Homo sapiens: one gene and its partners. The protein of the gene in region 3 purifies or fractionates together with the protein of the main gene of each other region. This does not show direct contact. Each region holds a gene or a part of one and is shown on either strand. Other genes may lie near its edges.

The links.
Region 1: the proteins of PDIK1L (region 3) and NCBP3 purify together in Homo sapiens (affinity purification with mass spectrometry; one large-scale study listed by BioGRID and IntAct). This does not show direct contact.
Region 2: the proteins of PDIK1L (region 3) and FKBP5 purify together in Homo sapiens (co-immunoprecipitation; 3 studies listed by BioGRID and IntAct, with this or other methods). This does not show direct contact.
Region 4: the proteins of PDIK1L (region 3) and CRNN purify together in Homo sapiens (affinity purification with mass spectrometry; one large-scale study listed by BioGRID and IntAct). This does not show direct contact.

What each region holds. Positions count from the first base shown.
Region 1 is NC_000017.11:3,810,993-3,816,176, forward strand, and holds part of NCBP3 (nuclear cap-binding protein subunit 3), read right to left. Parts: coding exon 5,124-5,184; intron 3,492-5,123; coding exon 3,330-3,491; intron 2,288-3,329; coding exon 2,052-2,287; 3' UTR 1,663-2,051; coding exon of another isoform or gene 1,554-1,662; 3' UTR 1-1,553. UniProt on the Homo sapiens protein: Associates with NCBP1/CBP80 to form an alternative cap-binding complex (CBC) which plays a key role in mRNA export. NCBP3 serves as adapter protein linking the capped RNAs (m7GpppG-capped RNA) to NCBP1/CBP80.
Region 2 is NC_000006.12:35,678,769-35,683,952, forward strand, and holds part of FKBP5 (peptidyl-prolyl cis-trans isomerase FKBP5), read right to left. Parts: intron 1-5,184. UniProt on the Homo sapiens protein: Immunophilin protein with PPIase and co-chaperone activities. Component of unligated steroid receptors heterocomplexes through interaction with heat-shock protein 90 (HSP90).
Region 3 is NC_000001.11:26,109,472-26,115,296, reverse strand, and holds the start of PDIK1L (serine/threonine-protein kinase PDIK1L), read right to left. Parts: upstream 3,474-5,825; 5' UTR 3,382-3,473; intron 2,838-3,381; exon of another isoform or gene 2,647-2,837; intron 1,006-2,646; 5' UTR 989-1,005; coding exon 704-988; intron 1-703.
Region 4 is NC_000001.11:152,410,742-152,416,625, forward strand, and holds the start of CRNN (cornulin), read right to left. Parts: upstream 3,523-5,884; 5' UTR 3,473-3,522; intron 1,506-3,472; 5' UTR 1,493-1,505; coding exon 1,355-1,492; intron 203-1,354; coding exon 1-202. UniProt on the Homo sapiens protein: Promotes cell proliferation, G1/S cell cycle progression and induces expression of the cell cycle regulator CCND1. Regulates proliferation induced by pro-inflammatory cytokine response via activation of NFKB1 and PI3K/AKT signaling pathways.

The DNA of each region.
Region 1 (5,184 bases), on a different chromosome or scaffold from region 3:
AGTAGAAGCAGAGACTGTGCTGGGATGGGAATAAGCCCCTGTCTACACCTCATGCGCGCCCTCAGTTGTCTCCCTGGCGCCTCCTCCACCTGCAGTAGAAATTCATGCTGGCGAGCCCACTGCCGTCACAGCTTGGGAAGAGTAAACCGCCACTGAGATGCACCAACAAAGCCAGGAATTCTGGTAACAGCCCACTCAACTGCTAGACGGGAAAACTGAGGCCCAGGTCCATGGAGCAGAGCCAGGGGTTGGCATCCAGGTGTCCGATTCTCAGGCCCCCGCACTCCTCACTCTACCAACTCCCCAAACCCTGACCCTTCCTAAGAACCTGGCTCTCAGCTGTATGCTTCACAGGGAAAGAAAAGCTGAGAAATCTCAGATGTCTTAAGTCTCAACTGGCAGAGAAACCAGAACCATCTCTTTCCTAGAATCCTAATAAGAAGCTGAAATATATCATGGTTATATCCTCTAATCTCTCTAAAGGGAGGGAGAAAAAGCAAGGTTAATCAACAAAATATGGGACAATACAGTTTTTGTTGCAGCTCTCAAATCTTGCAGCCCTTTACTTCCTTTATTAATAACAGTGTTCTGCATTAATTCGTGCCACAGTGTAATCAACTATCAATGTGACCATTAGCTCCGCCACAAGTAAAGATCGACAGGATCCAGGCTGCACTGTGTGCACAACAGCCCAGGCAGGTGAAGAGTCGTGACATCGCAAAAAGGACCACGGTTTATTACCATCTCTAACGCCCATGTTCCAGCAAACCGAAGAAAAACACTGTTTCTTAAAACTGCAGAGGAATACAAAATTAAATACTACAAAACAAAAATCAGACAGGAAGACGAAACAATCTACCTCCTCCTAATGGTAAAATAATCTGAAAGGAGTTTAAAAATAAATGAACTAAAATTTTTATAACTATTATCTTTTCTGCCAATTTTGAAGATGTCTTCAGGTGCCACAACGTGGGGACAGAAAGAATAAATATCAATGTATAACTTCTAGAGTGATAATAAACAACAGGACCCCATCTCAGATGGATGGATTTTTTTTCCTACTGGAGCCAAAAAACAAGCTGAACTCTATGTACAACAGACAGACTATACAACTAGGAGCATTTAAAAATAATAAGACTCCTCTCTCTGCCTTCTTCCAAAGAATAGAATATATATTTAACAGCACAAAAGACGACACCACTTGAGCTTCCCCTTTAGCCAACAGGAAGAATTTCCACATATAAAAATTAAAAATTTAAACTTTCAAATCATTCATGTTTTAAACATAATACAGACTTAAAAATTCTTCAACATTGACCCATAATCCCACCCCAGCACAAAAATCAACCCCAAATCCAGACGTCACAGTTTTTTGTTCCTAAAAATCCCACAGCACTGAACTTGATCTTCACATCAAGCTGACAGCACGTAAGAGGCCCATGCCATGAGCAATCCCCGAGGGAAGAACGGAAGCACAGTCAATGCTGCAGCTCTTATCTACCTGGGCGGCACTGGTGCACCTCTGAGGTCAGGTCCGTGAGATTCGCCCCACACTAGGGTCCCGGAAGGGTGAGCTGGCCGCTTCCCTCCTCTTCCCCCTCGAAGGATGTCCAATAAGCACCTGGGAATTGACTTTTCTTGGGAAAAGGGTGCTGGTAACAGCTGTCAGGGCCAAGGCAATAGTGAGAAGTTCAGTTCTCTGCTCTTTGGATGAACTGTGTAAAACATTTCTTTTAAAAGACACAATGTTAAAAATATTAAGAAAAATGTCTACAAAATCTGGAGGGCTGCCTTTTTCTCAAAGGGTAAAGCCTGTGGGGTGGTGGGAAAGGAATCGAGGGCCCAGAACTACAACTCTGCAGCGAAAGATAGAGATGCCCTTGAAAATGTGTCACATTCTTAAGATGTCTTGCCGAAGTAGCAAGAGCGGAGGGTGACTGTGTGAGCAGGAGCGAGAGGGCGCCAGCTCCTGCGGGGGAGGTTCCTACTGCGCGCCCCACCCTGTGCAAGAATGTCAGGCTTTAGGGCAGCTGCCATAGGCCCCAGGGGCATCAGGACTCTGCCTCTGAACCAGAGCTGCTTTCCCGACTAACTTCAATCTGGAGAGATGGTAAGTTATCTAACCGGCTCTTCTTTTGGCGAGACTGCTCTTTCTCCTTAATCAGAGCCCCCCATGCCCTTTGCAGCTCAGAGTCGTCTTCCTCAGCGCCAGGCGCCCTGTGATCCACTTTCTTCGTATTCTTTTCTTTGGTCTTGGGTGCAGATCCTAGGCGAGTCCATAAATTACCTGTTTGGATGAGATGGCATTTCACTTTCGCAGTCAGCGCTAAGAACCAGGGTAGCACTGAGGGGGCAGCAGCACTGCCAACACCTGCTGTGCAGGAAACGCCAGCAGTCTGTGGAGCCTGCCACCACAGTGCAGCCTTGGGCAGGCAAAATCTCATTTCCCGGGCCGCAGCCCCTGCCCGCAAACGGAAGGGTCTGGACCCAGCACGGGATTCTCACCGTGGGGGGACAGGTCAGGTCCCTCCCTGTCACCAGACACATCAGAATCACCTGAGAGGCCGTTTCCTCCTACTCCTGCCCTTCCCTGCTGAGACACCACCCTGTGTGCCAATCCATTCTGCCAGAAGTAGGCCACTCCCAGATCCCTTCCATTAATTTTTGAAATATATTTTATGAAAATTTAACAATAGAGAAATACGTGTTTAGAATTTTGTAGACGGCCACATTATAAGGCAATTCAAAGTTGTTTTTGTTTTTGTTTTTGAGACAAGGTCTTGCTGTTGCCCAGGCTGAAGTGCAGTGGTGCAGGCGCCCACCACCACGCCCGGCTCATTTTTGTGTTTTTAGTAGAGACAGGGTTTCACCATGTTGGTTAGGCTGGTCTCGAACTCCTGACCTCAAGTGATCCCCCCGTCTCGGCCTCCCAAATTGCTGGGATTACAGGTGTTGAGCCGCTATGCCTGGCCTAAAAGTTTTATTTATAAAGATTATAAAATGTGGCAAACAACTACGATAAAATGCTGTATGAAAAAACTAGGATTTGTATGTGGGCAAAGACCAGAATAGCTCACATGAAACTAAAAAGATTTGTGCCAAACAGAAAGAGCCAGGAGTGTGCTATTTTTTTCTATTTTCTAAGCGTTCCTAACTGTTGGGATGATGCTGATGCTGATGCTGACGATAACTATAATGGAAAAGGAATAATCACTTATATTTGGCGTGGGCTGTTTCTTGCCTTCTGCTAAGAAAGTATTTCTCCAATACACCCACTGTCCTCTGCTCTCACTGAATCCCCATTCCCATCCGTTTTAAGTGTTACCAACCTGATTTCTTCTCCCGAGTATCGGCGTAGAGGCCTTTACTATCCTGCCTGGGAACACCTAGCCTACTATGCACATCAGAAGAGGGCTCTCTCCGAACGACGGGGTTACTACTAAAAGCCTTTTCCGGAGAATGTGGTCTTTTTCCTAACCGCTGGCGTATATCTGAAAAAAGAGAAAAAGTGCACCAGTGACCGTGTGTGTGCTTTATGCTCGGCACCAGCCGCCTGACACCTCTAACGGATCTGGCGCTAACCCCTGCCCCGAGGACACAGGGCCTGACAATCAGGCTGCTAAGTATTCTTCCTTTGTAATCAGTCTGGATTTCCTTAGGAAAATTCGGACATAGGGGCTGTCAGAGGAAAAATCCTCAACTGATTACTCCAGAACTATATTTCTGAAGAAACAACCTTTTTTTTTTTTTCTTTAAGCAGAATCAAGAAGACTAAGTAATTTACAAAAGTTTCAGCGAACAAAAAATCCTGTGAGCTCCTGGAAAGTGGAAGGCACAATCTTTGAACATACAAGTAGTTCCCAATAAACTTATTACATTTAACCAGTAAATATAAAGAGACTGGAAAAGGCAAAGGATCAAATGTGTTTTTCCCTCAATCCCCCCAGAAATCGGCCTGTCCTCTTGAGTTCCCCCTAACCACCACAGCAACAACAGAAACACATTCGTTGGTGAGGCCCTGTGCCGAGGTCTCCTCTCACTTTAGCTTCTCTCAGAGAGCAGCACCCTGGTCTCTGGTCACTGAGACCTGAGCTCCTTTCCTCCAACACTTCCTAGCACTGAGTCTTCCTTCACAAGACTATCCTGTTCTTTATCCATTCTGTCTCCACCGACCTAGTTCAGGCTCTTGTTACTTTTTTAACTCTCTACCCCACCCCACTCCACCCTCAAGTTGTCTTTCTAAAATAGATGTAAGATCAGGTTACTTCTCATGTAAAAAAATCAGGTTTGCCAACAGAGATCCTACCCTCTCCAAGGCCTGGCTCTAATGCTACTTTCTCTAAGAAGTCTTTCACAACTTCCCGAGTAGATCTATGACGGCTCTGCGTCCCCTCCAAAGGCTTCTCACATTCCTAGCACCTAGACCAGGGTCTGGCACATAGCAGGTACGGCTAAAGACCTGCTGAATCAGTGTTTGAACATAGAAATTATCTAGTTCAAACTCTTAACTGTTCAGACAACCACCGAACTTAATTTCTATTATTCTTGTATATAAAGTATACCAGTGTCATACAGAGGAAAATATGGTTGGCCCTCCTCATCCATGGATTCCACATCTATAGATTCAACCAACTGCTGATCGAATACATGTGGAAAAAAAGTAAGACATAAGAGTACAGCAAAAAATAATACAAATTTTACACAACACAGGATAAGAATTTATACCGTATTAGGTATTGTAAATAATCTAGAGATGACTTAAAGTATATGAGAGGATGTGTGTAGGTTATATGCAGATAATATGTCACTTTATATAAGGGACTTAAGCATCAATGGATTTTGGTATCTGTAGGGGGCGGGGAGGGGGTCCTGGAAGCAAGCCCCCAGACATACCAAGGAACAACTGTAATTATTTGGAATAAAAACATTTAAAGCTAGTTTTTCAGAAGTCTGATTATTTTTCATTTCCTCAATTTCCAACACCTAGCCCACAATTTAGACATGATGAACCAGGACAGCTAAATCAGTTCACACATCGCATGTTTTACTCAGGAACCTCTCTCTGCCCCAGTCTGCTTTCCGGAGCTCAGAATCCAGCCAGGAATCCAAGTGAGGAACAGTACCTGATTTAGTACTGCTGACTGGTGGCCGTGGACGGGAGTGCTGACGTTTCTCATCTAATAG
Region 2 (5,184 bases), on a different chromosome or scaffold from region 3:
TGTGAGAATTTAACAGTTTAAAAAAGCACATGGCTGGACACAGTGGCTCATGCCTGTAATCCTAACACTCTGGGAGGCCAAGGCAAGAAGACAGCTTGAGCCCAGGATTTTAAGACCAGCTTGAGCAACATAGTGAGACTGTGGCTCTACAAAAAAACTTAAAAATTAGCTGGTCATGGTGATGCATACCTGTAATCCCAGCTACTGTGGAGGCTGAGGTGGGAGGACTGTTTGTACTTAGGAGGTCAAGGCTGCAGCATGCTGTGATTTCACCACTGCATTTCAACCTGAGCAACAAGTAGGACCCTGTCTCAAAAAAATATATGAAATACAAATAACCAAAATGTCAGTAATTAATGAATCTGGGGAATGGGTACATGGAGGTTCATTAAAGAATCTGGAGAGGAGGTATATGGAACTTCATTAGACAATTCTCTACGATTCTGTGTATGTATGCAACTTTCATAATAAAAAGTCTAAAAAGGTCTACTTACAGGTATACTTTTTAAATCCTATCTTCAGTTAAGGCTGACCATTCTAAACAAAATTCTGGCAGATACTTTTCAAAGAATGTTTTCTTCATTCTCGACTGATCAATTAAACACCATAGTGAAATGGACCATAAAAGGGGAAAAGGCCTATTCTGTCATTTCAGAGAAATATGAACATGTTTATTACATGGAAGAAGTTAGTCCTTTTATCCATGTTGATTGATATCAGACATCTGTCATTCTTCAAAGAATTATGTTTTTGTTGAAAAATATATAAGTTAAATGAGTAAAGAAAACATGGCATACACACACAACGGAATACTACTCAGCCATAAAAAAGGAATGAAATAATGTCTTTTACAACAACTTTGATAAAGCTGGATACATTATTCTAAGTGAACTAACTCAGGAATGGAAAACCAAATACTGCATGTTCTCACCTATAAGTGGGAGATAAACTATGAGTACACAAAGGCATACAGAGTGATATAATGGATTCTAGAGACTCAGAAGAGGGCAGGGGAAAGGAATAAAAAACTACATATTGGGTAAAATGTGTATTACTCAGGTAACAGATGCACTAAAATCTCAGAATTCACCATGATATAATTCATCCATGTAACCAAAAACCACTTGTACTCCAAAGCTATTGAAATAAAAATATATTAAATTTAAAAACTTATAAATAAAAATATATAGGTCATATAACTTTATTATTTTCATGAGTAAAGGCAAAATAAATGTTTATGTTGAATATCAATGATTAATTTGTTGAAGCATCTGGTTAGCCCTCCAGTTACTTCAAACATCTTCTACTCGACTATATGACCAAATAAAACAACTTTCTGATGTAGATGGAAAAAAAAAAAAGATTTAAAAAAATGAACCAGGCCAGGCACAGTGGCTTATACCTGCAGTCCTAACACTTTGGGAGGCCAAGGTGGGAGGATCACTTGAGGCCAGGAGTTCAAGACCAGCCTGAGCAACACAGCAAGACTCTGTCTCTACAATTTTTCTTTAATTAGCCAGACATGGTGGTGCACGCCTATAGTCCCAGCCACTCAGGAAACTGAGGCAGGAGAATCATTTGAGCCCAGGAGTTCCAGGCTGCAGTGAGCTATGATCGCACTACTGCACTCCAGACTGGGCAACAGAATTAGACCCTGTTTCAAAAGAAAAAACAAAAAGAACCAATATCCATTAATTATGCCTAATACTAAATTGTAATGAACACATACTAAAAATTACATAAAATAAGTAGTAGAATTGGAAAGTTGAATTTTTTTAGCCATTATTGTTTAAGCTATGATTTAAATTGATTTAATCTAAATCAAATCACACTATTGAGGCTGTGGAAACATTAAATCTAGTAGACAGTGACAGATTTACCACTTACCAATGATCAAGAATAGTTTAGTTTACAAACACCAATGTCTTTCCTGCCTATGAAAAATAGCACCACCCAAAAACAACAACCAGATTTGTATGCCTCCTCTTCTTTGGCTAAGTTCTAGGATAGTAAAAACTGTTCATGTCTTTGCAACAGCTAGCACATTGTAGGTATACAACTCTTTTAACAGAAACAGTCACAACTTCCAATTCCCAGAAAGCTATTGCTAGGTTTCAGTCACATTCCCTAGGTGACATGTGTAGGATAACAAAATAAAGCAGGTTTGCCTTGTAGGCAGTTCTACCTTGAATCGTTTTGAGGATCCTGTTTCTTCTAACAGAAACATGTCATGAGTCTTTAGTGAAAAGCAGTATAAATACATATACATGAAGACAAAAGACAGCCAACGATTCTTTTTCTCATCATTATTAAACCACTGGTTAATTCCTAACTGAGGTATTTCATGTTTTTTAGATAACAAGATCATCCTCATTTTCAACACTTTTTTTAGCTTTCTTTCCTTTATTAAAGTAAAATTTACATACTATAAAATCTTAAGTTTGAATCAATATGTTTGAGTAAATGTATATAACAATTGGCAAAACTGGATAAAGGTATACGGAAGCTCTTTGTACTAGTCTTGCAACTTTTCTGTAAGTTAAAAATTACATGAAAACGAAGTTACCCAAAAAGTATATAACTGAATTACCATCACCCAAGTCAAGCTACAGAATATTTCCATCATGCCAGAAAGTTTCCTTGTGCTCCTTTCCAGTCAACCACAACCCCTACCCAGAGGCAACCACTGTCCTGATTTCTATCACCATACCTTAGTTTTGCCTGTTCTTGTATTTTTCATAAATGGCATCATAAACACTTATACATACTCATCTGTGCCTGGCTTCTCTTGCTATGAACAGTATTTCTGAGATTCATCTATGTTGCTATGTGAATCAGTAGTTTATTCCTACTGTGAAAAAAGCTGCTATGACCCAGTCTTTTTGTGGGCATATATACTTATTCCTCTTGGTACAATAAGATTTCACAGAAAAAAAGTTTCGCATATAAATATGCCTGGGAAATAAGGCAGTATAGATAGATACTGCTATACACACATAAAACATATAGCAACCATATATACCATTATATATAATGTAAAAAAGATATTTGATATTTATACATATGTGTAATATATGTGTAATACACACACATACATAAGCTTGAATAATTCTGATCACGCCACTGCACTCCAGTCTGGGCGATAGAGTGAGACTGTCTCAAAAAAAAGAATTTATAAAGTTCATAGTGAAAGTAAATCTAAGATGGGAAAGATGAGCATCTCAATTTTTCTAAGTTTATGTCTTAACCTAACAATAACTCAAAAGAGAAACAAGTATCTCTCCATGTAAATTACCCTGTTAGGTTTCAATGAAACACCTTTTCTCTTGTAACAAACATCTCCTCCAAGCTAGAATTTCAAAACAGTGTTACCATCCACTAGGTAATAATTTTTATGCTAGCAACAAAACCCAAAATATGTGTTCAGATTACAAGACTGTTTTTATTGTCTTGCTTTTTTAAAAAAGTTAAACATGGAAAAACTTAATTAATTAATATCTAACATGGGTAAAGAACATTCCATGCTCATTCAGAATATATTCTGATGCAGACTCAATCTCTAAGATGTTTTCTCCATTCCAAAAAGTAACCTATCGCAGCATTATGTCCATGACTGGGACATCTTGACTTTCAAATTCACTGTGCAATTTTCAGCTAACAATGGAGGAGGTTCTTTAGTTTCCAGAGATAGGAACACTGAGAACAAGTACAAATCTAACTTTTGAAAAGATCAATCTGAAATTTGCAACCCTGCTTTTGATAATGAAATGACCATTTTCTGGGGACTCCTCATTTATAACATCTTTAAATTGCCAAGTTTAAAACAGAATGCTACAAATGATTCTAGAAATTTACCACTGCCCACTTAGGATTTGCAACTACAAAAGGGAAAAAACAACCCTCTTCCAGTCTGATTTTTCTTCATCTCTTATTCTTCTTTCCAAAAAACGAACAATTTCAAAAGGATACAATTCAAATGTACTACATTTTTAAGCCAGGCATGGTGGCTTGGGCCTGGGATCCCAGCACTTTGGGAGGCTGAGACAAGAGGATTGCTTGAGCCCAGGAGTTTGTGTCGAGGCTGCAGTTAGCCACCACACTTCAGCCTCGGTGACAGAGCAAGAAACAATCTCTTTTAAAAAAAAAAAAAAAGAAAAAAAAGTATATATATATATATCCCATTTCTTTTTTAAAAAAAGGTTAAAAACATACGTCAATCTCTTTAAAATGTATGTATGTGTCTGTGTGTATATATATGTCTCTTCCAATCTTTTTCTTAAAAAAAGTATAGAAATATATATCCCAAGCTCTTTCTTTAAAAAAAAAAGTGTGTGTGTATATATATACGTATATGTGTGTGTGTGTGTGTGTGTGTGTGTGTGTGTGTGTGTGTGTGTGTGTGTGTGTGTATTTGAGACTGGGTCTTGCTCTGTCCCCCAGGCTGGAGTATGGTGGCTCACTGCAGCACTGAACTCCTGGGCTCAAGTGATTCTCTTGCTTCACCCTTCCAAAGTGCTGGGATCACAGATACAAGCTACCACACCTGGAGAACTTTATATTTTTTGTAGAAATGGGGTCTTACTATGTTGCCCAGGCTGGTCTCTAACTCCTGGGCTCAAGCAACCCTCCTGCCTTGGCTTCCCAAAGTGTTGAGGTGTTGACATTACAGGTGTGAGACATCATGCCTGGTATATATATATACTTTTTTTTTTATTGAGATGGAGTTTCACTGTGTTGCCCAGGCTGGAGTGTAGTGGTGCAATCTCAGCTCATTCCAACCTCCACCTCCCAGGTTCAAGTAATTTGCTTGCCTCAGCCTCTTGAGTAGTTGGGACTAAGGGCATGCACTGCCATGACTGGCTAATTTTTTTTTTTTTTTTTTTTTTTTTTAGTAGAGATGGGGTTTTGCCATGTTGGCCAGGCTGGTCTCCAACGCCTGACCTCCTGGCCTGGCCTATATTTTTAATCTTATAAAACATTATCAGAATTTGGACATTCCTAGGCTGGGCATGGTGGCTCACACCTGTAATCCCAGCACTTTGGGAGGTCGAGGCAGGCGGATCACCTAAGATCAGGAGTTTAAGACCAGCCTGGCCCTGGCCAACATGGCAAAACCTCGTCTCTACCAAAAATACAAAAATTAGCTGGGCGTGGTGGTGTGTACCTGTAATCCCAGCTACTCAG
Region 3 (5,825 bases):
TTGTACCACTTACTATGTATGTGATTTTGGATGAATTCATTATCTATACTATAAGCCTCAGTTTCTTCATTTGTAATGAAGATAATAATAGTCCTTTCCTCACAGGATTGTTTTGAGCAACTGCTTTTAAAGCACTCAGCACAGAGCATCGAACTGCATGCAAATTCAAATGTTAGCTGTTAGCACTGTTAATAACATTCAGGTGTTAAATCATGTACTTCATGAAAATTAACTGGAACTGCGTGGTGAAGAAACCAGATATCCCTCTAAAACAGCAGAGGCTTACATTCAAACCAGTGATTTATAAAAGAGATGCCCAATTACCTAGGGGTGTTGCTACTGGTTGTGGAATTTTTCCTTTTCTTCTGTCCTCAAGTCCAAAATTATTGATTTCAAAGAAATGAAGTTATTAGACTGTAGTCTCAAGCACCTCTCTAGTTCCTATCTTGCCCCATTCCTATGCAGACTGGCAAGTACCATTGCATAACAGGTGGCTTATGTTATTTTTAGGTATGTGCCTCACAGGTTTAAATAAAACCTTGTTTTAAAGCAAACATCTACTCAATTCTTGGCAGACACTTATCTACTTCTAACTACAAACACCTGCATTTAAAGGGAAACGTTCGTCTGACCCTTTCATTCCTCTTCTTGCTGGCCAATGCCATGTTCAAATCATTTCTATTTCCCAATCAACAACACATACCTGTAAATAAAGGGAAGAATTAGAGCCGTGGGACATCTTTTGCACCATCCCATCCTTTTGTAGGATGCATTCCTCCAAGTGAATCACATTTGGATGTTGGCTCTTGATACTGCTTAGTGCCCAGAACTCACGAAGGGCTAGTTCAACATTTTCAGGTGCGTGACATCGAATTTTCTTCACTGCCACCCGTGCAGAGGTCTTTCTGATGACTGCTTCATACACAACACCGTAACTACCTCGGCCTACCTCCCGTATTAGATCGTACTTTGGCTGGCTACTCACCATCTTCAAGGTCGAGGTTTCTGGAAAAATCAACAAAGTGCTCTGTTGAAATTATGTATACCTACTGGCTTGTATTTCTTCTTATGTATGATTTACTTGTCATCTGTCTGACTGTCTGCAGTGCTTGAAGGATATTTGCTATACCTAGGGGAAATCTAATTTTAAGAATAGTAACAATAAAGCTAACAGGTAGTATTTACCATGTATCAGGAACTGTTTTAAGCTCTTTAGAATATTAAATTCAGTTAATCCTCATAATAATCTGATGAGATAGATACTATTATGGTCTTTTTATAGATGAAACTATATAATGGAGAGGTTAAATGAAACGCCTAAGGTCAACAGCTAGTAACTGGTGGACCTGGGATTTGAAACCCGGCCATCTGCCTCAGACGACCACGATCTGAAGCACTACAGTATGCTGTCTCTTATATGAACTGCTTGAAAATGTCACTGTTAAAAATACACCCCCAAAATTCAGCATTCTTATTTACTGATCAGGAAAAAACAAGCAAGCAAGCAAAATCCCAGCTTCTCCTTCAGGCTGACACACACATAATGGTCATAAAACAGCAAAAACAAAACCCCCTCACAGTTAGAAATACAAACACCTGGCTTATGCTTAAGGCCTGAAAGTGAACCAAATCATTTATAGAACTGAAAATGTTTGTTTTCATTATGTAAAAGTAAGTGGCCAAACTCTATCTATTCATATTTTAATTTTGTCTCTTATGTCATCTCCTTATTTCTTACACAATAATGAAAATAAAGTTTGTGGAAAAGAAACGTTTCTTTTTTTTTTTTTTTTTTTTTAGACGGAGTCTCGCTCTCTCGCTCTGTCTCCCAGGCTGGAGTGCAATGACTTGATCTCGGCTCACTGCAAGCTCCGCCTCCCAGGTTCACGCCATTCTCCTGCCTCAGCCTCCCGAGTAGCTGGGACTATAGGCGCCTGCCACCACACCCGGCTATTTTTTTTTGTATTTTTTAGTAGAGACGGGGTTTCACTGTGTTAGCCAGGATGGTCTCGATCACCTGACCTCGTGATCCGCCCGCCTCGGCCTCCCAAAGTGCTGGGATTACGGGCGTGAGCCACCGCGCCCGGCCAGAAACATTTACTTAAAAATAAAGTAAGCTACTTGGATACTTAGAATACAGTTACCTTTTTGTAGTCATTTAACAATAGCTATTTTAAAATTTTTATGTTTCCTTTTTCCTAGTCATAAGACAGCTGGAGTAAACAATATCTATTTAGTTCTAGGTCATTTTTGCCAACAAAGATCCTGCATATCAAGGGGCTCTCTGACAGAGTTCTTGGGAATTCAACTTACTGAACGGTTTAAAGGCGAGGGCAAAGGCCCTGCACAGAAATGCTCATGTGTTGAATGGAGAAAGTCTAAAGTGGGCTTCCTCAGCGCCCAAAGAATTTCTAGATTATAACCAACTTCATGAACGAATTCTCATTTGTAGATTGTGACCACGGGCTAGAAAAGTAACCTGAGATTGTACAATATTTATTCTGTACAGCTGGGGAAGCAAAAGGCTACTGACCCTAGAGCCTGAGAAGTTGGGATCCACTGCTTTAAGTCTACAGGATAGATTTAATAAAAAGAAATGACTTCTGAGATTGTGTTCAGTCCCACTTCCTCTAACTGGACACCCACCCTTCAAATCGCTACTGAATTTCCTAGTGTCTAATTTCCTGCCACAGAATCCTCTGCGCCGGCTGCACAGCAGACGAGCTTTCCTGCTCTACGGGGATCGCCAATCACATCCACTCAAGGTGGTTCGTGTCTCTGAAGCAGTGCCATGTCCTCTCCAGCCTGGTACAGTCCCCATGGGGAAGAGCACCTTCCTGAATAGGGAGGAGAGAGGTGTTTATGAAACCCGTGGGATCCCGGATCCAATGATGCATCCGATGCGAACCTAAGTGACTTTCGACCGAAAGTGGCGGGCCCTCGCTCCCGCTGCTCTAACCAGGCGCTGGGACGCGAGCCGGCCAGGCCAGACACCTGCCGGCGCCCGGGAAGGGCCAGTCGCGGCCAGAGGTGTTGCCCGACGCGGCGGCTCAGGCCGCGCTCATTGGCCAAGTGTCAGGCCCTCCCCCTCCTCGGCCGTGCTCAGATGAAGCCCGGAGGGGAGCCTCCTGAGCCCCTTCGCTCTGAGGAGCCAGCCCTGCAGTTGCCTCAACTCCTCGGGGCTGGGGGCTGAGGGCCGGGGGGAGGTGGCCCCGGTATGAGAGGAGGCCGCGACTGGGGTCGGTGGCCTGAGGAGCGCAGGGCCTTCCCCAGGATGACTCCGCTGACACGTCTGTGACAAGCCTCCCAGGGAGGGAGGCACATGCAGGGCCATCGGCTCTGCAGCAAGACCTCTCCGCCACGCCGAAAGGCCAGATTTACCTCAGGGTAGACGCTGCCGCTTCTCCCTCTCATGGGCTCTGCAGGCCGCCATTATCGGGCAGCTCGCGCCTCCGCTGCCGCCGCCTCCAGTCAGCAGCCGGCGCGCGCCCCCGTGGTGCGCGCGGACACACCCCCTTACGCCGACGGCCCCGCCCCCCTCCGGCTTTCCGTAGCGCGAGCCGGGACGTTCCGCGCCACCGACGAGGCGCGCGGCCGGCGCTCCGCTCGCCTCCTCCCTCTCTCGAGGATTTGCAGAGCCGGGAGTCGTCGGAGGTGTGCGCGCTCCGGAGCGCACCACTGGTGCTGCTCCCCGCAGGGGTGGCCGGGCTCGGGAACCGCGAGGCCACGCCACGCCGGGGCTCGGCCACCCTCCAGCCGCAGCGGGCGCTCAGGGCCCGCGGCCCCGGGGACCGTCTGCAGCGGCAGGTCCGGGCCTGGGGCTGCGCGCGCCCGGCCGCGGCCTCCCCTCCCTCTACCCGCCCCCTTCCGACCTACCGAGCTGCGGGCTGGGGTGCGGGGCTCGCTGGGGTGGAACGCCCGGTGCATCTTCCGCGCGGGTCTCGGGTGCCTGCGGGGCGCGGTGCTCTTTGGCGGGCCTGCGGGGAGGTGCGGCCCGACCAAGGAGGCCTGGCGTCCGCCCCGCCGGGAGGGAGACTGCAGCTTTTCTCCGAGTCACTGAGCCATGTTTGCGGGCGGTGCAGTTGCGGAGACGGCGGCGGCGGCGGCGGCGCGGGGCTGGGTGCGATCATCTGGGAGGATGCCGTCCCCTGCCCCGCCGGCGCGGTGGTATCTCCCTTAAAGAGGCCGGCGCCTCATTGTTCCCCGGCTGCGGCCGCAGGGAGCCAGGGCCACCTCCTCGGCGTGGGGAGTGAGGGCGCGGAGGCGCCTGCACCTGGCTGCGGTGCCCACGGCGCCCCCCCGCGAGGCTCCTGGTGGAGGGTTGGTCTGCAGTCGGCGCAGGGGAGAGGCCTTGGTCCGAGCCAGGATCCACCGCGCTCCTGCCGCTCTCGGGGCTGGACAGTCAATGGGGTCCCCGCCGCTGCTGCAGTCGCTCGGCTGCCACACGCTGTTAGTCAGATCCCGCACGCTGTTGGCCCCACAGCCAGCCCGGGGTCACTTAGGACCGCATTCCTCAGTCATCCAGTTGTTAGATCAGTAAGCATCCGCCAGAAAAGTCCATTCCTTCTTACTCGATTTATTCTGCACCCATTACTTCTCAGCAGGGTGATGATTCCTCCTCCCAGCGCTCGCTCTGTAAGGCACGATGTACAAAAAATCCCTGTCGCTGTGCTCAAAGATCAACTCATTTTATTTTCTGTCCTTTATGCCCCTTCTCCCGAGAGTCTGGCACTGGGTTAGGTCTTTATATAAATGATCTTGCTTAATCCTAACCAAACCCCACAAGAGTAGGTTTTATTATCCTGTTTTTACAGGTGAGGAAACACCTCTGCCTCTTCTCACTGAAGTGTCTGTTTTGGGATGTGTCTACCTTGAATACCCATTCCTGGTGTAACACACCCTCCCCTTAAAAAAAAAAAACAACAACGGTTCTGTAATCTGTTCAGATTTTTGTCCTGAGTGCCATCCAAGTGTCAAGTCTTCAGCTGTTTGCTGGAAACACTGGTGTCAGCCAAGACTTATTTCCCGCCCTCAAAAGTAGAGGGAAAATATAGAAGGCTCTGCGTAGACAGCTAACTACCTGTGTGGGTTATTGATCCCAATCAGGGGAGGGACCTCTCTCTCGATCAAAGTAGCGTTTTCATTTTGTCTCAGTCATTAAATATCATAGGAACCCTTGCTCTTAAGTCAGCTGCAGATGAGATTTGAAATCCACTCTCGCCCCCAGTTTAGGCTCACTGTTAAGTCTGTGAGGGGGGTTTAGATCTTGTGGGACCTGAAACTTAAATAATTTGGGGTGTCCTCCTGAGGAAAAATGTTATAAAATGGCCCTGTGAACACATATCTGGAACACTGGAAAGGGTCCCTATAAGTAAAGGACTCTGAAGCTTAAGATTCATTAGTTTCAGGGTAAATCTGCCTCCTGCTTATTATGTCATTTTTTTTAGCCTTTAGGCCTCCTGGAGGACTGAGAATTCCTAGGGGCAGGAACCTTGTCTGTGATTCATCTCTGCAGCCTCCTCAATCTGATATGGTATCAAAATACACCTAAGGCTAGCATTCTCATACATAGCTGGTGGGAAGACAAAGTGATATAACAGTTAACAAGGAAATTTGGCAATATATAGCAATATTATTTGATCCAGTAACCCTAGATCAAATACTAGATTTCGAGGAATCTATCCTAGTAATATACTGGCAAACACACACACACAAAACAACAAACCTGTATGTACAGGGCTGTTCATTATGGCATTAATGAATAGCAAAAGATTGGAAACTGCTCACATGTCTAATGATAAAGAACTGGTTGAATAAATTATAGT
Region 4 (5,884 bases), about 130 Mb from region 3:
CCAGCTCCTGCGAGGCCCCAGAGTGGAGGCTTCCAGACTCTTGAGAGCCGCAGGCTCCCTCAGCACTCTCGCTCAGTGTCTTGAAACAGGCCTGGGCAACTTTAAACACTAAGACCAGGAATTCCTTGAATTCCACAGTCCCTGTGTGGTCTTCATCCAGCAGACGCAGGACCTCATCCACAGTTGCTGGATCGTGGGGTTTCTGAGGAGAAGATGAGGTGGAGTCAGCATCCCTCCCCTGAGGAGGACATGGGCAGGTCCCTTCCAATCTGCTGCCAGCTTCCCCTGCCTCAGACCCCACACTACACACACATACGGCTAGAGCAGCAGCAAGACTTAATTGCCTTTATTTTTTTTTAGTCCCGTCTCTCTCCCTCAAGTGTAGAGAGCATTTTTTGTTTGGTAGCCTCTATTTGGCACAATTTCTGGGCTACAGGAAAATTAGATAAAGATTTATTGAAGAGTTAATAAATTATTGAATTCACAATGCAACTGTTTGGGCTCTCAAGTTGACTGTCTGGGCTGCCCTTGGCACCTTGCCCCTGGCACTGAGGCCTTAGTCTCTTCAGCAGGCCCAGCACAAAGAGCAGCAGGTTGGGAACACAGCCCCATGGGAATTCTGTGCGCTCCTCATTGAGGCCCAGATGTTTCCCCATGATAAAGAGGGAGGGAAGCAGTGGGCCCCTGCAGCGCTGCCCTGAGCATGTGGATGCAGCATCCTTCTGTGCCCATATGTCCTTGTCCCTAAGGCCATCATCATCCTGGTTGCTTTAGATGCAAACCAAAGACAGGAAAGTGCATCAAGGCCTTGGTTCTGGTTTGCCAGGTGGGGTGGGGTGAGGCTCCAAAGTCTCCCCCTAGCTATTAACAACCTGCTCTTCAAAATTTCATTTCTGATGTGATCAGTCTGCTAATATTTTTGAGTAACTGCTTCGTGCAAGCCCAGAGCTATGCTTCTAATGAATGTCTATGAATGGATGATTACATTTCAGATAGACGTGGGAAATATTTACTGTATCAAATTTAAGAGGCGGCAGAAAGCAGCAATTATTTTCATTTTGAAATATTCCAAGGCTCTGCTCCTGTCTGAGTTGTCCTTTTAGAGCCCTTTTACCTTGTCTTTAAGTTAGAATTAATTAAAACCAAGGTTTTAATCTAAAGAGCCAGGACTTGCCAACTCCCATGACCATCTCTGGTTCTTTCACCTTTTTTTCTGCCTGCACAGCTGCCATCTGTCCCGGCAGGCCTGGGTTTAGCTGCTGCCTCCTCAAATTCCCCAGGCAAGGCCTCTGCAGGCAAACCAGGTTTCACTCTCCTGCTATGTCCCCTCTCCACCCGGCTCAGCACACCGTACCACAATCACATCGGCAAACTCTTGCTCCAAGAGTCTTTTCAGCTCCCCTCGGGTGAGCGCTGTGCAGTTGCCCTCCGTCCTTGCATAGCGCCTGAAGGCCTCGATGATCCCATTAATGTTTTGCAGTAACTGAGGCATCTTTGAAGTCAACCTGGAAAAGATGAAAAGTTCCCTTGGAGGCTCCATAATCAACCTCAGCTATTTCCTTTATAGCACGTCTGCTGCTAGGTCTTTCCTTGCACGTTCAGCTCTGTTTTTAGTTTTCCTTTGTCCTTTCCTACATAATGCATCTTATGTATGGGAAGGAGGAGCACACAGGATGGAGGCAGGTTCCTGAGTCAGGATTAAATGCTGGCCCCACCACTTAAGTATGGTGTGAGCTGGGACAAGTTGCTTTGCCTCTCCATGCCTCAGTTTACTACTCATTGTAATTGAAGGTGATATTAGTACTCTGTGGGATTATTGTGAAGATTTAAAGACATAATTCATAAAAAGCACTTGGCAGATGCCTGGCTTATATTAAGTGCTCCTTATTAAATATAATTATTATGCTATTATATACATATACACACATATAATTTTTGTACACCTATATAATCACTTTCCTGTACATCATCTCTTCTAATCCTTATTATTTCCACTTTTTTTTATAGGTGAGGAAACAGGCTCAGAGAAGTTAGGCCACACAATTTTTAAGGAGCCAAGAAATCCTAGGATCCATTTTTCCTTAACCCAAATGCAATGGGCTTTCTAGAATGTACCCTGTGGACAGGATTTATTTATTTATCACAAGGGTGTTAGGGTCCCATCGGGAACACCAAAAGGAAGTAAATACATCTGTGAGTCAACCCCTGTCTTGGATGGGAGCCAAGCAGAAATTCCAGGGACACAGCCCTCCCTTCTTGTTTTTTTTGGGAAAGTGGGAAGAAACTGGGCTACCACCTGCTGGGAATGCTCAGGAGGGGGGAACCTTCTTTGGGTGGGAGGCCTTCCAGTTCTGAGGGTCCAAGTTTCTCTGCATGTCGCCTCTGTCCACAGCCCTGAGACTTATCAGAGAAGTCAGCTTGCCCAACAGGCACGTGGCTCCATCAGGCCCAGATTTCTGGTGACCTATGAGTTGGTTCCTAATCAAAGGGAAAGCTTTTCTTTTTCATTAGCCAGAAATCTAGAGGTAGGTTGAGGTGAGGCCTGGGTTTGGTTGCATGAGCAAAAGGAAAAGAGACTTGAAGATTCATTAAGCAGAAGCCTTGGAGAGACCCAAAGGAGGAGATGGTATCAAAGATGACAAGTCTCAAATGCAAGGGGAGATGGAGCCTGTAGCAGCTGGAAAGCCAGAGAGAGGATGGGACGAGGCAGATATAGGTAGGAGAAGAAAGAGAAAAAAGGAAGGAAGGAGACTTGAGTTCTAGAAAAAGCAGATTAGTGTGGCCATGAGGACTCAGTAAGTCATAGCAAAAGGTGGGCTGTTCAGGAGAAACCCTTTCTAGGACCTGGTAACCAACAATTTCAGGCAAACTTTTCATCAAGGTAAAAAACTGGGGATGTTTTCCTCAACATAGATGAAAAATATCTTTCTTTTTTTTTAAAACCATGTAGCAGACTTTAACCACTGACCTTTAGATAATAAAATAATAAGATGACCTTTTAGTTACATTTTAGATTCCTTAGAAAAATCTACACATATTTTGCCTAAATATCACCCTGGTGTAGGAGAGGGGAATCATGTAAACCCCTTCATCCATGACACAGTTTGATCTTATTGTCTAGGTTGGCATAAGTAAACTGATTCTGATCCCATAGACTCTCAGCACTGCAAAGAAGCTTCCAGAGCCTTAGAAAAAAGAAACCTTTGCTGATCCAGGAAGGCACATGGGTGGCCCCATAGCCGCTGCCCACACAGTTTCCCAGTGAGAGGAGCTGCTCCCAGGCCAGCCTCAGGGAGGAGGAGAAAGCCTGATTGCTTCAGGAGAGCATGTTTCCCAACGGTAGCGTTGGTTTGCCCAGTGCTCACAGCTAGCTCTGAAGGATGCATAGTCCATACCTGACTGCCCCAGTTTTATGAGCTCAGATCACCAAGACACTGAGAATGAGAAAGAGGTTTCTTATGAGGGGACTTACCTAATGCCCAGGTGGGATGAAACAAGTGGCTGTTAAGTGGTGTGAGGAGTACCAGGTCAGTGTGATGAGAACCTTTTATAGGGGTTTTAACCAAGGCTCTTGTTTTAGACAGGATATCCTGCCCTATGGGAAGGCTTGATTCATCCAAGATCCAGCCCAGCCCAGCCACACCTCCTCTTGTCTCTGTTTTACCTGCTGATGTGTGACTGCCTTGGTCTAATTAACAGGCCCCTCCTACCACATTTGGTACCTTCTGTAGCTGAGTCCTCTTGACAGGGAAGCTTCTTTCCATTGTGATGGGCTCAGCAGTGCTTGGTACAGGCTGGGGTCCTGGTGAACATTCTTTGTCTCTATGAGCCTACAAAGTTATGGGACTCTTTCCTTTTTTTTTTTTTTTTTTTTTTGAGATGGAGTCCTGCTCTGTCGCCCAGGCTGGAGTGCAGTGGTGCGATCTTGGCTCACTGCAACCTCCGCCTCCTGGGTTCAAGCAATTCCCTGCCTCAGACTCCTGAGTAGCTGGGATTACAGGTGCCTGCCACCATGCCCAGTTAATTTTTGTATTTTTAGTAGAGACAGGGTTTCACCATGTTGAACAGGCTGATCTTGAACTCCTGACCTCATGATTCACCTGCCTCTGCCTCCCAAAGTGCTGGGATTATAGGTGTGAGCCACCGTGCCTGGCCACTGTTTCCTTTTTTAATATAAATGTTCAAGAATATATCTATTGAGGTTAACTTTTACAAAGTAGCCACTCTGAGAGGGCACACATGTTTTTGTGGTGATGTTACTTAGAACTGTTATTACTTAGAACATTTTTTGAATTCTTGTTTTGTAAGTGCCTTTCACACCTAGTGTATGAGACACAAGAAAGCCAGTTTCATCTCTTTAAAGTTGGTCTCATTTTTAATTAAAACAAAAAAAGTTAATACCTTCCCCACCCCATGCTATGGGTAGGTAGCATTTTGTAGCTGATGAGAAAAAAGGCTTACCATGATCATGTGGTAACTCCTCATTGCAAGGACAGGAAACTCAACTGGTGGCTAATCAGCAAATATTTATGGAAAGCTTGCTCCATTTCAGGCAGAGGGCTAAGGCCCTAGGAATACAGTGTTGAATACGATGGCAGCAGTTTCAACTCTCATGAAGTCTATAGCCTGGCCATCCCAGGGGTAAGTCCCCAAGAGGTTAATGATAATGGTATTGCCATTTCATTTCATTTGATTTTATTCCATTTTCATTACCATCTCATCTTATTTGATCTCCCTAGCAATCCTCTGAGGTGGTATGGCTAAGCCCAATTCATAAATGAGAACACTGAGAAATCCTCAGAGAAGTAGCCACTCTGTGAAGCGGAGACGGTGCTGGACTAGAGCCCCTCAGACTCCAGGCCTGTGTTCTCTCTGTTGCACCATGCTGCCATTTATTCTTCTCTCATTGAGTTTTGGCACCTTATGAACATCACACTTATCCTCAATGCATGAAGAACCATTCCTGAGGAGGAAGTTTTCTGAGCTCAGAAGCCAAGTCCCAAAGAGTGCTCTTGAGTGGCACTTTGCAGATAATATATACTGTGTAGCTTCCTGAGTGACTCTGGAAGGGAAAGCCATCTTTACCATCCTCACTTATAGATCAGCATGCAACAGACAGGAAAGGGAACAACAGGATAGGAAGGCATGGTAAGGGCCTTGGTTGAAGAGACTGGTGTATTGAGGGCAGCCCTGTAGCAACAGCACAGCCTCCAGCACTTCCCCTCAGGGCACAGAGCACTGGGGAGTTCCAGACTGCAGGAGGGCAGGATGCAGGCTTTGTGTTTGGAGAGATCTGTCTACATGGGGACAGGTTGGCTCCAGTCCTGGGGTGAAGGTGGGGTAGGCATACCAGCCAGGGAAAAGCAGAGTAGGGGCTTCAACCTTTGGGAGCAAGAGGGGGCTGAGGTTGCTTCTGCCTGATCAGAGTTAGAAGAAGGCCAGTATGAGAGGGTGAAGTTGGAGAACAAGAGGGAGAGCCGATTAGACCTTCTTCTGTGGTGGTGTTTGAAGCTTTTTCTGATGGGGCTTAGAACTTCCAGAAAGGTTTGGGAACTGAGGGTAAGTTAGGGAAGTAACAAGCCAGAGGCTGTATCTAGAAGATGAATATTTGGTAGGTATTATTAACCCAATTTATAGATGAAGAAACCAAGGCACAGAGAGTAAGTAAGTAAACTTAAGTAAACTACCTAAGGTCACATAGCTAGGAAGTTAGACCTGAATTTGAACTTAGGTCTGCCTGCCTCCAAAGCCTAATAGGTCTTTATGTGTGCCTGGGGCAGGACTGAGCTGTGAGGAGCTGGGGCACCATAGAAGTAGAGGTTAAAGAACTGTATGTGTGTGCTGGGCCAGTGGAGGTGGGTTGAAGTGTGCAGGTGGGGCTGGG